2 separate regions of the Homo sapiens genome follow, and region 1 is linked to region 2. The links come from fine-mapping of genetic effects on plasma protein levels. A gene starts in region 2. The other region holds a variant in brackets. All regions are shown on one strand. Distances are between the middles of the regions.

Region 1 (5,379 bases), 120 kb before region 2:
GAACGTACGCTGGTAGAAGCTTCTCCAACAGAAGACATTCACCAGGGACTCATTAGCATCTGCAAGATTTACCTTCGCACACAGGGCAACACTCCCCAGGCACTTTCACAGGGTTTGTGCAGGTCTGTCCGCAGACGGTCGCAACGCAGTGGCGTTCACCGTTGACGCACTGGCAGAATGTGCAGTCGTCTTCCCGCCACCGGTCTCCGTGGGCAAGGATCAGGCCATTGGCATAGCAGCCAGCGGGATTATTAAAAGGATACACTGGATCTAAATGAGAACATGAGTTCAGAGTTAGACTGAGCATCTTCTAAATCTTATCTCTGTCAGTACCCAGAGACATTTTTTCCCTGGGTTCTAGTCATCAGCAGTTCTATTCCCACTGTGATCAACAGAAGCGCAGGGTTGCATGAGGAGTCTCTGGGGGTGCATGCAAAAGAAGCTGTCACACTGAATTTATGTCTACTCATCCTGACACAGCAGTCCCAGAGAAGAGGATCTGTAGTCTAAAAACCAATGTGCAGGTGTTATCACTCTGTAAAGTTGGAAAGCTTTGTGGCAAGAGCTGTGGGTTGGTAATTAGAAAACATGACTCCATTTTAGGCTCTGACAATGTCTTCGCAGTTGTAGACATAAATGTTTATCAAACCTCAACTTCCCTAACTGTAAAGCGGAAGCAACAATGCCCTAAGTCAGAGTGATATTGTTACTTCTAAAACTCTATCTCATGTACCTGCACGACCATGTGGGCAACAGTGGTCTTGCTGTGGACTTGTTCATGACAAGGCTAGTCTAGACATACCATGGGTCACTGTGCCTTGGAGGAGCGCTGTGAACTTAGGCCATTTTTTCTCCCATAAGTTGGGAAGCTAAGCTGCAGCCCCAGGTGGGAGACAGAAGTAGCCAAAGCTACTGTAAAAAAAAAAAAGTTTCTGAGGTTACTGACAAGTATATAAATACTGCATATGAAACCCTCTCTTATCCCTCTATTGAGAGCAACCAGATAAATTACTCAATTTTCTTTCTCAGAAATACATAAAAAACTGGCTTCAACAAACAACTACTGCTGTGCTGAGAGAGGAATCCAGACAGTTCATAGAGTTTGGTCATCATTATTCTAAGGACATAGTGGGACATTATAATAAAGTCAGTTAGAAGGTCAGCATTTAAAATAATGCCATCACAGCGTTAGGAAGGCAGTCTGCCAGAGAGGGAGGCGGCCAATGGACCTGAGCAAGAGAAGATTTTTTAAATTCCTGTGTAAAAAGTATTAGAATACATATTTTTCTACGTTGAGCCTGGATCTGAATTCCAGGAAGTGAGACATAACTGGATCCATGCCCAGACAACTCAGTATGATGACTACACAGAGGTTCGTATCTACATTTTTACAGCATCAACTGCTGCACAGTTTCAGAACTATTGCAGACTGGGGGCAGGTAGGGAACAAAACAATTAGAAAGGTTAAAAATTTGAAGTAATTCTTTTTAATTGTCAACATCACCTAAAAAATAAACTACTTTTCTCCTATGTTGGGTAAAATAACCTCTAGTAGGGAAAAGAACTCACTGTTATGAACTATGTTAGGAATGCAATTTTTATACTTTAAACATTTTCAGATCTTCAATATTATGTTGTAAATATTGCTCAAATATCAAAAGGAGAAAATTTTATGAAAATGAGGAAGTATGGAAAGTGGCATGACACTGTGCCCTCCCACTTTGTGTGCAGAGATCAGGCATAAGATTAACACATGCGACTTCAGATTGAAGATCTGGGGCCTGGTTAGGACAGGAAGGCTCACAAGACCTTCCTTTCTGGGGAAACAGTGTTGTGTTGTCAGAAGAACACTATAGACACAGTCAGGCACGGGGTTATTGTTACTGGCTGCAGTGTAAAGTGACTTTACAGGCAAGTGACTTTTCTCTTCTGAACTTCAACATCCTAATCTGTAAAATGTGTGGGTTGCAGGGAGTGATATTCAGAGCAACTGTTTTGAAATGCTTATTGTTTATGAACATCAGTGATGGGAAGATGCAGCCTGTTGAAGGAACATGAACATATTACTTCTTGGAGAGAAAAGGGGAATCCAGACAAAGCAGATTCCTGAGAGTCACACCTGACACCTGGCTGGGCCTTGAGTTGGTGTCACCAGGTGGTGACCTGATACCACGACCCCATGTGAACCACCACATATTTTCAGAGAAGCAGTAGCAGGTCCCTGATCTCCCTGGAGGGTCCTGGGTATTACGACAGTGGCAGAGTTAGTTCCTCTCTGGGCCGGCAGGCTGAGACTGTCAGGGTGAGGCCCACATTATCCTAACTGAGCAATCTGAGGTGAGGAGGTGGTGAGCTCTAATGCCAGGGTGAAGATAAAGCTTTGCCCTAGGACTTGCTGAGGAATTGCTAGAACTGCAGGGGAGGAACGGAAAACAACTCTGGGACATCTCACGTTGCCTGTGGAAAGAGGTGACCCATTGTCTACACCCAGGCATAGCTTCCCTTAGGGAAGTGTTTCCACACACTCTACCTGGCTTTAACATGCTAAAAGACAGACCATGGTGTCTTAAAAAAGGCTAAAAAAGGAACTTCAATATTCCTTTACTTTTGGATGAGACTGAATTAGGACGATTTTGATTTTAGAACTCTATACCATGTATGCTCCTGTTAATCTGTAATTAGCACCTTTTCTTACCTTCACACACTGGGCAGCACTCTCCTTCGGGCACGTAGTACCTCTCGCAGTTTATCTCACCACACTGGGCGGTGAAGCAGATGGCAACGCCCCCTTGGCATCGACAGAACCGACAGTTGTCCATT[C/T]GAAACATGTCTCCATCATAATATTCCACATTGTTAAATACGCAGGCTGGCTTTGTATCTGAAAAGAGTTAAAACAAACAAGGCATATTTGTAGTCATTTTTTAGTTGTGTCCTTTGATGTTTTTCAAACAGCCTCTAGAAAATTTCTAATAGGAGGTTATAAGTTGATGGAAATTTACTCAACTCAATGTAAGTTCATGTAACAGAAAACAATAAAGTGAAGCAAAACAAAATAAAATAAAACACACTGTTATCCAGTTTACACCAAGGAACAGAAATTCCCCCTAGGAAAATCTACACTGACTTCCTTCCATCCCAGACAAAGCTAAACTTTATGACCATGACACTCACATATCTGGTATGTGCTTTAAAGTGATTCTATTTGTTTGGTTAAATCATTGTCTACCTCAAATGAATGATCCTGCCTCCACATTAGGTTTTGTTCTGCTTCAAAAATTTTATTATGGTCTTTTTTGAAGTGGTGATGTTCTGTTCCCCCAGTGCTCTCTCTTAAATTCTTTTTCTCTGTACATGGTATAAACACGTATAATTTTAATAGTGTTTGGCCTTTAACAAAATACTCTCTATATGTATCACCTCACTTAATCCCTATAATGAAGGTCTGACATAGGTATTATTATCCTGAGTTTAAAAGTGAGGAAATCCTAGGTAGTTTACTCAAAGTCACACAGCAAACGACAGAAGCCAAAACAGTAGCTCTTCAACTGAAACCTTGTGCTCCTTCCATTGTGCTTCAGGGTTATGTTCTGCTGAGGACTCATAGTCCCATATTTAGAAGTCTCATCACGATATCAATGATTTTTAAATTTTTCTCTGCCTTGAAACACTCTCCCTACATTCATTCTTTAATTTTAGTTGATTTAAAATAACTCCCACCAAGACAAGAAAACACAACTACAGATCAGTATATTATAAATGTAGACACAAAAATCTTAAAAAAAATTACTAGCAGACCACATCCAGCAACATATAAACAAAATTATACACCATGACCAAGTGAGACTTATTCCAAGAATGCAAGGTTGGTTTAACATCCAAAATATTAATGTTAATACGATATGTCACACAATAAGGAAAAAAAGCAACATGATCATTCGATAGACACAGTTTTTGGCATCTGACAGAATCTAATATTCTTTCATGATAAAAATGCTCAACCAACTAGGAATAGAACGGAACTTCCTCAACTTGATAAATGGCATCCTCAAAAGTCCTACAGCTAACCTCATACTTAATGGCAAAAGTCCAAGTGCTTTCCCCCTAAGATCAGGAACAAGACAATGAGGTGTGTTCTCACCACTTCAATTCGACATAGTAATGAAAATTCTAGCCAGAGCAATTAGGAAAAATAAATAAATTAAAAGCATCCAGATTGGAAAGGAAGAAGTAAAACTATCTCTAATTGCAGATGACATGATCTTGTATGTAAACAGTTTTAAGGGATCCACTAAAAAACTATCAGAATGTATAAACAAGTTCAACAAGGTTGCAGAGTACAATTGCAACTCCCCAAATTGTGTTTGTATACCCTAGCAATGAACAATCAGAAAATGAAGAAAACAATTCCAATCACAATAGCATCAAAAAGTATACAATACTTAGGAATAAATGTAATAACATAAGTACAAACTTGTATTTTGAAAATAACAAAACATTTTCAAAAAACTAAAAAGGCCTAAGTAAACGGGACATCCCGTGTTCATGGATTGAAAGACAACATTGTTTAAATGGAAATATTCCCCAAATTGATCTACATGTTCAATGCAATCTCTATCAAACTCCTAGCTGGCTCTTTTGTAGAAATTGATAAGCTGATCATAAAATTCATATGAAAATGCAAGGGACCCAGAATTGCCAAAACAATCTTAAAAGGGAGAACAAAGTTAGAGAACTCCTACTTCCTAATTTCAAAACATAATACAATGCTATAGTAATCAAGACTATGTGGTACTGCCACAGGGATAGATATATAGTTCAATGGAATTGAGAGTTCAGGAATAAACTATCACATTTACAGGTATTTTGACAAGATGGCCAAGACTCAGTGGGGTTCAAAGTCTTTTTTTTTTTTTTTTTTTGATATAGAGTCTCACTCTGTCACCCAGGCTGGAGTGGAGTGGCGTCATCTGAGCTCACTGCAACCTTTACCTCCTGGGTTCAAGTGATTCTCCTGCCTCAGCCTCCCAAGTATCTGGGACTACAGGTGCATGACACCATGCCCAGCTAATTTTTGTATTTTTAGTAAAGACCATGTTGGCCAGGCTGGTCTTGAACTCCTCTGACCTCAAGTGATCCAACCACCTTGGCCTCCCAAAGTGCTAGGATGACAGGTGTGAGCCACCATGCCAGGCCTGAGGTTGAAAGTCTTTTGCATTATCTACATGCAAAAGAATAAAGAAGAAAACCCTATGCCTCACACCATATACAAAAATTAACTCAAAATGAATCATAGAGTTATGATCTAAATACAACAGCTACACCTACAGTGCTCTTAGAAGGAAGCATAAGAGTTAATCTTTGTGGCCTTTGATTAGGGAG
Region 2 (5,329 bases):
ACTTGGACTCGTCACAGGGCAGGCAGACCAGCGCCCGGGTGCCGGAGCGCGCCAGCAGCAGCAGCAGCCCCAGCAGCGAGACCAGGAGGTGCCCGCAGCCGGCCAACCCCCTGTCCCCCGCCACCAAGTACATCCTCCTGCGCCGCCGCCGCCTCCTCCTCGCAGCCGGGCCGGGAGCGGGGCGGGCGCCCTCCCCTGCGCGGGGCACACGCGCCGCCGCCGCCGCACCAGCAGCCCGCGGTCCTCACCGCCCCTCTCGGGGCCCCCGGGGCGCGCCTCCCCTCGCGGGGCGAGGCCCCCGCCCCTTCTGCGGGCCGCGCCGACCCCGAGCCCACGAGCCTTGGCGCCGGCGGCAGCTTCCCCTCCTCCTCCTCCTCCTCCTCCCGGGAGGGAGGGGGAAAAAAGAAAAAAGTTTCCTCCCGGCAGCTCCGGTTCAACCCAAACTTCTGGCGCGGCGGCGGCGGTGGCTGCTGCGCTCGGCTCCAGCCCGGGCCGGCGGCGCCTCCTCCCTCTCCTCCTCCGAGTCGGCCGGCCCCGCAGCGGCGCAGCCTCCGGGCCGGTCCCCGCCTCCCGAGCTGCCGAGTGGGCGCGGTGGCGCAGCACAAGATCCGCGGCGTCCGCTCCGCGCGCCCCGCTCGCCTCACTCCTGCGCCGCTCCTCCGGGCGCTTGTTTATGGCTGGAGCCTCAGCCGCTCGGGCTGCGCCCTCCCCCATCCTACCTCCTCCCCCAGACCTTCCCCCCACCCCCACGCGCCGCGCGCCGCTCATTGGCTGCCCCCCCTCCCCGGCCCGGCCGGCCCCCTCCGCCTCCCCCTCCCCCTCTCGGGCGGCCGGGCCCTTCCTCCCTCCCTCACACGCCTCCACCTCTTCCCGATCTCCTCCTCCCCGAGCCCGGCGCACCGAGCCGGCCGTGCCACCGAGCTGCGGCTCTGGCCCCGGCGCCGCGGGTGCGCTGCGGATGGGCTTGGGGCGCACCCAGCGAGCAGCGAGAGTCGCGGTGTCCCGGGCGCTCGCTGGCACCGTGGCCGCAGCGGCCGGCCTGGGAGCCAGGAGGGCGAGGCGGCTGCACCTTCGGGGCCAGATTGGAGTTCGAAGAGTGGCGGGTACCCCAGAAGCTCGGGGCCGGGGCGATGGCTGCAGCCTCGGGAGGGTATCGCCGGATCGAACTCCGGGAAAGGGAAGCAAAGGCATGGAACCTCCGCACACTGGATGAGAATCCATCTTCCATTCGAGCTGGGAATAGACTTTGTGAAAGATATTATGTAATGGAGTCTCGGGAACCCTGAGACCTCTCCAGCGAAGCTGAAGTGAATTAATTAAGTGCTTTAAACGGTCTTGGTAAATATTCCGCGGGAGCTGGGGAGGACCGTTGGGATGGCTGTAGCTTGAGTTGAATTTTAACTGTCCTCATTCTGGGTTTTGTCGCTCTGCTTTCTGTGCCAAGGTGCTGTGTTACGGGAGAGAGTGACTGGAAAGTAACAAAGCTGAATCTTTCTCCCTGGAGTAAGGCCGAAGACTGGATTACTACACGCCTAGACGTGACACTACACCCATAGATCTCATGCATCATTAATGCCATATGACATTGCCATTTTCTTTCTCAGTTCACGGACAAAAGTGGTGGGTTTTCATTGTCTTCACTGATTGTCAATGCATTAATAAAGAAGATGTGTGGTACATAGTCTTTGTGATAAATCAGGTAAAGAAGCAACGGAAGTGATGCAAAATGCACGGTGTGGAGATGGTTTCTCTTCAGTGGTTGTCAGAAAAGGTTTTCGTAATGATGGCTCTGTCATTGATGGGATATGAAGTAGTAATCCGCTCCGTAGTGACCTACCATTCACAAGATGGGTACCAGGTGAATAACATTAATTAATTGACAAAAAGTGACTGTGGTCAATGGGGGAAAAAATCGATCCCGTGGCAGGTGTGACGTGGGAATGGCTGGCCCACCCTCTGATCCAAGATGGTCTGGCTGCAGGAAGGTGGCAGCCAAGTGGATTCTGAAAATCGTGACTAATGAACCGAAAGTTAATAGCTGGCAGTGCAAGGAAAGAGGAAACAAAGCTACCTTTGAAATGTTATGTTTGTGGAACAAATTCATACTTACGATAAATATTTTAGTTTAACCACTCTGTCTAATCCTGAACCCAAAAGCCAGAGTTACCAGTGGACTATTCCCCCATGATGGGCATCAGCAAACTAAACATTTCTCCTATCATATTTCTTTGTCCAAGGAGAGGAAGAGGCTCATTAATTATCATTGATTATTATAGGGCCATGAGGAAGATGTTCAACCGTGGAAAAGGGGAGAGAGCATTGCATTTTCTAGACGGGTTTAAAGAGTTGTTGCAATGAAATGATTCCTGTAGTTGGGTGGGAAGTCCGATTAGATGATCTCCAAAGGCCCTCATACCCTGTGGGTCCATAATAAGTGTTAAGTGGCAAAATCGTTTAAAATATGCTAGGTTTTCTATTAGAAAAACCGAAGAGACTGGGCGTGGTGGCTCATGCCTATAATCCCAGCACTTTGGGAGGCCAAGGTGGGCAGATCACTTGAGGTAAGGAATTCGAGACCAGCCTGGCCAACATGGTGAAACATGGTGAAACCCTGTCTCTATCAAAAATACAAAAATTAGCCGGGTGTGGTAGCGCATGCCTGTAATCCCAGCTACTCAGGAGGCTGAGGCAGGAGAATCACTTGAACCCAGGAGGTGAAGGTTGCAGTGAGCCGAGATTGCGTCATTGCACTCCAGCCTGGGCGACAGAGCAAGACTCTGTCTCAAAAACAAACAAACAAAAAAACTGAAGAAAAATAAAACACACATTGTTAAACATTGTTCTTTCTTGTCACCGAACAAGGCACCAGCACTTCAGTGTGGGATTTGCCAACAAACTGTCATCATTGCTCTGTGTTAAAAGGTCCCTCCCACTCTTGCAGAGGAGGTTATCTGTATTTCTGTTCAAATGCAAGTATAAAGACATTAAAATGTAGCAGATAACATTGTAGGACCTGCAGGAAAAGCCAAGGTCAGGTGATGAGAAAAAGGCAGAAGTGAGAAAGCTACTGTGGTTAGGAAAGAAGGAGGTAATAAGCATTGTCAAAGTTTAGCTTCTATTTATTTTTAAGGGGATATATTAAGGATTAAGGAAAGCTACAGATGAGCACAGGCAAAGGATAATTTGGAGATGACTATTCATTGTTCCTGGGACTTCAGAAGTAGAACCACCTGGAAGGTAGATGGACAGATACAACATGAGAAAGGTTGACTTCTCACAGGAATTCAAGTCAGGTTTAGAAAGGACTAGGGAGATTCTTTAAGATGAAGATGATTGTATCAGCTCAAAAAGAAAAAAAAAATCAAGTTACATTACACATGCCCTTTGGCATAAAATTAATAGTCATAGAAGCAATAGAGAAAATAGGATTCCTTGAAGCCAGTGACTAGTGGCGAATGAGAAACCTGCAAGGTCCTGGCAGCTTTTCTGAAACCAGTGTGTGAATCAGGAGCTCAGTTATGAAACAGCTCTTTCTTCTCTGGGATCCAGGAGGGATGATAATGAGGTAGTGAGAAGCTGAGGCAATGATACTGAGGCTCGAATACAAAAGTATTTTCTTATCTTCAAAGACCAGACTATGGTTACAGAAAGAGTTTGGGTGAGCCCAACATGATGACAATCAGGTGTCACGGGTGAAAGTGGACTAGGAAGAATTACCCTGAAATTGAATGGACCCTGAAAGTCATGAACGAATGTTAAGAATTAGAGCCACACATGAAAGGCCTCCCTTTCTGAGAAGCCTTCTTGAGCTTCTTTATCTGTTCTACAGCATTTGTAAGTACCTCTGCTTGTAGCATTTATCATGTTACATTATAGTTATTTAAATAACTCTGAACCCAATTAGCTTGTCAGCTTATTGGAGAGGGCAGGATTTATAAAAATGCATGCATGAATGAGTTGAAAAAGGGAGAGTGAAGAATTACAGTCAAAATGATATTTGAATATTATTGTCTGCAGCCCTTCTCTCTTGGTTTTAGTAAATACCTCAAAATCAGTACTTGAAAGGGATGGTATGGGCAGGAGGGAGTCATCGAAGTTTGGGGTGGGGGTGGTGGGGGGGTGGGGGAGGGGTTGGGGAACAGGTCTGCAACGAACCAGGAATTACGAAGTATTTCTGATGGAGGTCTAGAAGAAGAGATCGTCTGCCCTCTATTGGCCATCCTGGGGATTAATAAATTGTTGAAAATGTCGAAAATCAAAGTGCCCATTTGTTGGCCTAAGCAGAAAGTGGAAATGAGAGGGCAATAGACAGAATGTTAGTATTAGACCCCGCCTTTCCGATACAGTGTCTAGTCCACCTATAGTCACACTCTGTATTTTCTCTTCCTGAAATGAAAAGAAAAATGTAGAAGTTGCCTTTGAGTTTGGCTCACATACTCTTGGAATTGAGTTGCACTTTGTATTTTCTCTTCCTGAAATGAAAAGAAGAATGTAGAAGTTGCCTTTGAGTTTGACTCACATACTCTTGGAATTGAGTTGCACAAGAGAAGAAACCTCATTGTGTTATGAAAACGTTGCATACATATTAGAAAGTGGTACGAATAAACCAGGGTAGCAGGTCTGGCCCGTTTTACCCTCTTAGGCCATCTCTCTGGTCTCCTCAGCTGGGATCACCTATATATGGGTTCTCACTTAATCTAGGCTTGGCACTGCAGTGATATAGACAGACCCTAGTTTGGAGGCTCAACCATCTGGATGTTGGACTCTTAATCTGAAATTGAACTCTATTATCACCACGTAATACCTTATTTTTGCTAAGTGGGTTCTTATTTACTCTGCCTGTGAATGATAGCTGCTGCAGAACTACCACAAGGTTTACAAGACATCTGCACAGAACACAGGTTCTCTTTGATGTTTGGCCTAGGATCCTGACACACACACACACACACACACACTCTCTCTCTCTCTCTCTCTCTCTCTCTCTGTGTACAAGTTTAAACAAGGTATTTATCCTTTCTGAATCTGTCTTCTCTGTAAAACAGAGACAAGAATACCAACCATACAGGGTATCGTGTGGATAAAATGATTGCTCTCCTTTTCTATTGTTATTTTTAGAGTCCTTCTAATTGAGTGTCTCCTCAAGTTTTATGCTTGAGCTGGAATCCCTGCTCTCTGTTATCTTAGCATCCATTGCTGTGCAACATCTGCTGGATCAGATATTTGCTTTTTTTTTTTTCTTTCTTAGGATCTTCTGTTGGCCTTGTTTTGACAGTCTGTCTCATCTTGGGGTTTTAGCCTCTGTGATATTTTCTCAGACTCATTTTGGTCT

What was found. PIP is the chance, under the fine-mapping model, that this variant and not a neighbour inherited with it causes the effect. The UK Biobank Pharma Proteomics Project read protein levels with antibody pairs (Olink). The fine-mapping took linkage between variants from a reference panel, not from the people measured, so its PIPs are less certain.
Region 1: its variant is fine-mapped to the plasma level of the CRIM1 protein (UK Biobank, PIP above 0.99). The variant lies in the coding sequence of CRIM1. If it changes the protein, the assay may bind it differently, which can mimic a change of level.

What each region holds. Positions count from the first base shown.
Region 1 is chr2:36,474,388-36,479,766 of GRCh38, reverse strand. CRIM1 (cysteine rich transmembrane BMP regulator 1) reads right to left here. Exons shown (of 17, transcript NM_016441.3): 6 at 2,696-2,878; 7 at 73-270. Among named protein-coding and RNA genes, the nearest start is that of FEZ2, 120 kb to the left of the region's middle. RefSeq lists a silencer at 3,047-3,341. The variant C/T (reference allele first, on the strand shown) is at 2,821.
Region 2 is chr2:36,351,097-36,356,425 of GRCh38, reverse strand. It overlaps CRIM1 (cysteine rich transmembrane BMP regulator 1), which reads right to left and starts at 648. Exons shown (of 17, transcript NM_016441.3): 1 at 1-648. The coding sequence starts at 133. CRIM1-DT (CRIM1 divergent transcript) reads left to right here and starts at 856. Exons shown (of 2, transcript NR_037631.1): 1 at 856-1,338; 2 at 1,445-1,677.